Linked DNA regions of Homo sapiens: region 1 is linked to region 2. Evidence: fine-mapped expression QTL. A gene starts in region 2. The other region holds a variant in brackets. All regions are shown on one strand. Distances are from middle to middle.

Region 1 (2,807 bases), 49 kb before region 2:
AACATTTACTAAGCCCCGACTATGTGCTAAGCCCCATGCCAGGCACTAAAAAGATGAGTCAAATAAGCCGCTGCCCTGCAGGCGTTTACAGCCCAGACTTTGAGCAGGCCAGGATAAATCCACGTGACAAGTATTCTGAAAAAAGCGGATTCAAGGGCTGTGGGAGCATAGAAGAGAGACAGTCCGGGAAGGTTTTTGTACCAGAGGTGTCATCAGAACTAGGACTCAAAGGAGGGGCAGGAGTTCACCAGGCTGAGGAATTCCTGAAAACTTCAGTGCCCCTGCCATCGTCTCACTACCCTGAGTGGTGATGTTGGGGTGGACAGGAGCATCTGAGGTTGCCTGGGGAATGAGGGAAGCTGTTGTTTCCCACTCCCCAAGAGTCTGTCTGATCTCCAGAGGCATCTCTCTTCCAGTCAGGCAGGCCAGAGACCCCTGACACACAAAGTTGGGCTCTTTTCTCATCTTCATCCAGAGAGTGATAATAGGTTATTTTTAGGGTGGCACAGCTGCACGAAGTATGACAGTAACCATGAGACACCAAGCACTGTGTCCAGGAGTAACCATAGGGCACAAGGACCAGCCAAGGGCCAGAGAGGCTTACATCTCCTCCCCCCAACCCCTGAAGTCCAGCTTCAGCCCTGGAGAGGTATCCAGGCCCCTCTGCCCACCCTGGAGCACCTAGGGCCAGTGGAAATCCACCTCTTAGGGATCTTGTCTAAGTAAAGAAGAGCAGAGCAAAGCTCTGCCCTGGCCTTGGCGCTGCTCCCTGGACATCCCTTGCCCCTGGACAAGCCTATGCTGTGTCTTCCACAAAGAAGCTTGCTGGGGACTGGATTATGACTCTAGAGTCTCCTCCCAGCCTCCTCTTCTCAAGCCTGAACTTCTCCCGTTCCTTCAACTTCCAGGTCCCTCGACATTACTGAGCCTAGCCTTTGCTCTAAGTTTTGGTGATTTCCCTCTCTCAATTGGTGTCTCAGAGGGCCCTGGGGTAGAGAGATGGTGACTCTTCTAGAGTGGGCCACAGCCCCTTGTGTGCAGATCCCAGCTTCCTGTAAACAGCCTCAGATCAGGCCAAACCTGTGGTCAGCCAGAGCCACTGCTACCCAGTGAGGTCTTCCACACCCTACTGACACGGTGAATGATTTTTAAATTTGAATGAAAGGCTTTTTAATCAACCCCATACACATTTAATGCATTGGCTTTAATCCAGCAGCCTGTTGAGAGCTATTAGCACTTATTGATTGCCCACTTACTGTATGCCAGGCACCGTGCTAAGTGTTGTATGTGCATTATTACATTTAATCCTCACAAGGACCACATAACATAGGTACGAATCGCCACATTCTCCAGATGCAGAAGCGAGACCCAGAGAGGCTGGGTAATCAATCCAAGGTCACACAGACTGCGGGGGCTGGCGCTGAGCTTGGAACCCAGGTTTGCCTGACCTTCTGGGCTTTCCTAAGAGATCTTATTTTTTCCCAAAAGAGTTTCAAGAGTGCCCAGCACTGGGCTCAGTGGCGGGCTCGGAGGTTGTTTTCGTTCATGTAGGAACTATCACTTCCCCATTTTTTTCATAAGAAAACTGAGTCTCAGTCCTGATACACAGCCAGGAAGTTGTGATGTTCAGGCTCCAACCTGGGTTTACATGGCTCCGAGGCTGGGGCTCTTTTCTAGTCCTCAGACACACTGTCGCACGCCTGTGGCAGAAGCTCCCATCTCACACTTGCCGACCCTCAACTCACACAGTCCTGAGACCCACATACGCTGAGCGCCTCACACTCCTATAACACGCACATGCCCTGATGCACACACAT[T/C]TTCAACACGCACTTACTCTACCCTTCAGGCATGGTTTCACACTCACTGCAGACACGTCACCCTCCCACACGTCTCCACCCTGGGGGTGTGCAGTAGCATGCTCTCTCCCACCTCAGAACCTCCCTTCAGTCCCCTCAGACACATGCCCTCTCTCCACGCAGAGACAATCAAAGCTGAACTAACACCTTCCAGGGTGAAAAGCAAATGCCCAGTAAGGTACGTCTTGGGTGCCTCCGTGTCCCCTGAGTTTGGTCCTATCAAACCAGCGATGATGAGGCAGCTTTTCTTTCGTTCCTTCCTCCATCATCAAACAAGTGCTCCTGCATCTCCTCTGGGCCGGGCCTACGTCAGCAAGGTCTGAGGGAAGCGGCCAAGGAGAGTGATGACGGCAGCCCAGGTTGATCAGAGAAAGGAGGCAGGTCCATGCGCAGTAACTCAGGGAAAACATGATGAGGACCTAAGGATGAGAAAGAAGCCTCCAGAGTTCCCTGTGCAGAGAGATTCCATCAATTTCAGAGGGTCAGGGGAGTGCCATGCATTCATCCAACAAATATTTATTGATAGTGCCAGGTGCTGGGGTATATTGGTGAATAAAACATCTTCATGGAATTTGCAGTCTATTGAGGGAGATGATTATAAATAGCTAGAGAAATGCATGTACAGCAGATACTGTGGAGCAAACAGGTTGCAGACAATAATAGGGGAAACCTACTTTATAGTAAGGTAGTAGCCAGGAAGAGCCTCTCTGAGGAGGCAGCATTTAAGGCAAGCCCTGAAGGTTGAGTTGAGCCAGCCTTATGAAGAGCAAGGGCAAAAGCCTTCCAGGAAAAGGGAATAGTGTGTGCAAAGGCCCTGGGGTAGGGAAGACTTTAGTATTGTCACAGAGCTTTTAAAAAGCTGAGTGGCTGCAGCATAGTGTGTGGGGTGTTTGTGGCAGGAATTAGGTTGGCAGGAGGGGGTTCTTCATCCTATAAGCAGTGGAAGGTCAT
Region 2 (2,807 bases):
CTGTATCTTCTGTTTCTCAAACTGTGGAAATGGTATTGCATTGTATGTCCACTGTTTACTTGGCTCTACGCCTTCAACATCCGTTCACGCTGCTCGGCAAGCAGCAAGGGCGTGGTGTGAAGCTGCCGCCAAGGTCTCCACGGTGAGGTCCACACGCGGCTCTCCTCCACCTGCAGTGACTCGGGGCGCCCAGAGCGCGCCTCCGGGATTCCTACATTCCACCTCCACCACCCGGCACCCAGGAGCGTATTTTGGCCAGCCTAGTAAGGGTCAAGCAGCATCTTGTTGTTTAATTGCCATTCTTCTAGTTAGAAATGAGTTTAAATATCTCTACATACGCGTTTCAGCCTTTTAGTCTCCTGTTTAAGTTAACGCAGAACACGCCCATACGAGTTCCCAAAAAAGCAAGAGAACGTTTGAAGGTCACCACAAGATCAAAACACTCCCCTCCCTCTCTCAGTAAAGACCTAACTTAGCAAAGCCAGGAGGACCCACTGATATGCGGATGAATGATTTTTCCAATTTACCGATTCCCTGATTTTCTTCTCTCCTCCGGCCCCTCGGATGATGCGAGAGAGGCGCCAAATACCGAGGCACCAAACGCGCGACATCCAAGGAAGCACCGTTTCCGCTCTCACAGGTGTCGACCCTGCACAGGGCAGGCCTTCAATGTAAACCTGTTGCATCGGGGACTCCGCTTCTCACAAAGGAGGGACGCTTGAAAATAGAGCCCCCAGGCCGGGCGCGGGGGCTCACGCCTGTAATCCCCGCACTTTGGGAGGCCGAGGCGGCTGGATCACTAGGTCAAGGAGACCATCTTGGCTAACACTGTGAAACCCCGTCTCTACTAAAAGTACAAAAAATTAGCCGGGCATGGTGGCGGGCGCCTGTGGTCCCAGCTACTCGGGAGTCTGAGGCAGGAGAATGGCGTGAACCTGGGAGGCGGAGCTTGCAGTGAGCCGAGATCGCGCCACTTCACTCCAGCCTGGGAGACAGAGCGAGACTCCGTCTCAAAAAAAAAAAAAAAAAAAAAGGAGAAGAAATAGAAAAGAAAATAGAGCTCTCAGCCCCCAGGAAGTTGAGGTCCCCTGGCGGGATGCTAGGGAGCCGACCCGCGAGGACCCTCTGGCGCCAGGAGCCCCCGCCCCAGCCCACCCCAGCCGCCCCCTACCTTCGGTCGTCAGCGCCCACAGCAGAATCAGGAGCGCCGCGCACGTGGAGGCGGCAGCCCTCCACGTCATCGCCGCGGCTGCTGTTGTGTAATTTTTTTCGCCGAGTGGGAGCAGGCGGCCCGGTAGAAACCAAGGGCAGGGGGAGACCTCTGTTGCGTAAAGAGTTGACGGAGACACAGCCGGGATTTCCAGCCGGCGCTTTTGCACATCCCACTTCTTCAGATCCCTTCGGCAACTGCGAAGTCGCCTGGATTTCCCAGGTTCGCACTGCAGGAAGCCAGGCGCGTGACCAGCCCCACCCGCGCCGCACTTTAGCCCGGGGGCGGGCACCGGCCGGGGAATCCTCCCTCGCCTCCGCCCGCGGCACGAGGTTGCGCGGTTACAGCCCCGGTGCCTCTCGCGAGCGGCTCTGCGGTCCAGGACTCGGGGCATCCTCTGGGTTCGCTTAGTAAATTGAGACCGGGATCCAAGTGGCCCGGGGCGCTGCTCTAAGGAAGATGCTGACCGCAGTCGGTGATTGCGAGAGCAGGTGCACGCGTCCAGAGCGACATCTTACCGTTGGCGCGATAAACTTACATTACTTTAAAAACCAAAAACAACAAAAATTTAGCATTAAGTCGAAAGGCAAATTAAATCCCCAGGACAATTCAGTTAAACGCCTGAAGGTGGCCCTTAATTTCCCATTTCTACTAATCAAGAAGTGGCTTGCGACCTCCTGAAGCAAACCCAAATATTCTCATTCGGTGATTAAGTTTTACCACCTCTACACCAGTTTTTAAATCAATTTAACCGCAAAGTTCAGAACCCAAGTGGCACAGTAAATGTGTGTGCATTTATAACGCAGAACCTGCATTCTTTCCCCAGCAACCTGCATTCCATTTGTCTCATTGACCCTACTGCATTTTTCCTTCGCATCATTAAAAAGGATGTAATGTACAGAAAAGCACAGACAGACCTAAACTCCAATGCCAACCATGCCATCTGCTGATTATAAGACAGTGGGTAAGTGACCTCATATCCCCAGCCTGTTCACATGTCTCTAAAACTGAGAGAGTAAAAGCTTCCTTTCCAGGGTTAGAGACACTGTCACTGACTAAGCAAATAGTCACATTCTCACTTATCTGCAGAACAGAGTGCATACAGAAAGAGCTCAGAAGTGAAAGATGCGCAGAGTGCCCACAGTGGCAGCAACTAGCTGAGGGGCCTTCAGATCGCAGCCTTCCGGACCACCGTTATAACAGGTAGAGATATGCAAGGTTAAGTCCAGCTATTGAATTTTTAAAACCTAAATTACACCTCTTCTCAACCTCTGCCTCCTCCAAGGAGCCTTACCTGAGGAGACATCCTTGTCTGGTATTAGTGACATCATTAAATAACATTCCCAATGGAGGTATATGACGACTTCTTATACATGCCCAGAATAGTGATTCACAAAGTTGTGACACATACACATCACCCTGTAGAAATTATCAAATTACTCTTTTGGTAATTTTTACTGTTTTGGTAATTTTTTTGTACCCTTTTTACTCTAAAGGGTAAAACCGGCAGGTTTCTCTATTTATATTTCATTAGAATGAAAAGTCATTACCTGTGTTTTCGTTTTTACCAATATCATGTCTATTTGAACATCTTTTT

Alleles and levels. Alleles are on the strand shown, and positions count from the first base shown. SD is a standard deviation of normalised expression in the study named.
For the expression in monocytes after LPS of the gene that starts at base 1,411 in region 2, C is the low allele of the variant in region 1 and T is the other (moderate effect, 0.48 SD a copy in Fairfax 2014).

What was found. PIP is the estimated chance that this variant, and not a neighbour inherited with it, causes the effect. A credible set is the group of variants that fine-mapping cannot tell apart.
Region 1: its variant is the best candidate, but not a certain one, in a credible set for the expression of NCR3LG1 in monocytes after LPS (Fairfax 2014, PIP 0.87).

What each region holds. Positions count from the first base shown.
Region 1 is chr11:17,399,324-17,402,130 of GRCh38, reverse strand. All of the region lies in intron 29 of ABCC8 (ATP binding cassette subfamily C member 8), which reads left to right. Among named protein-coding and RNA genes, the nearest start is that of KCNJ11, 12 kb to the right of the region's middle. The variant T/C (reference allele first, on the strand shown) is at 1,818.
Region 2 is chr11:17,350,404-17,353,210 of GRCh38, reverse strand. NCR3LG1 (natural killer cell cytotoxicity receptor 3 ligand 1) reads right to left here and starts at 1,411. Exons shown (of 5, transcript NM_001202439.3): 1 at 1,172-1,411. The coding sequence starts at 1,241. LOC105376576 (a long non-coding RNA gene) reads left to right here and starts at 1,345. Exons shown (of 3, transcript XR_931094.3): 1 at 1,345-1,432; 2 at 2,037-2,174; 3 at 2,300-2,398. RefSeq lists enhancers at 1-45, 270-871, 872-1,473 and a silencer at 1,470-1,589.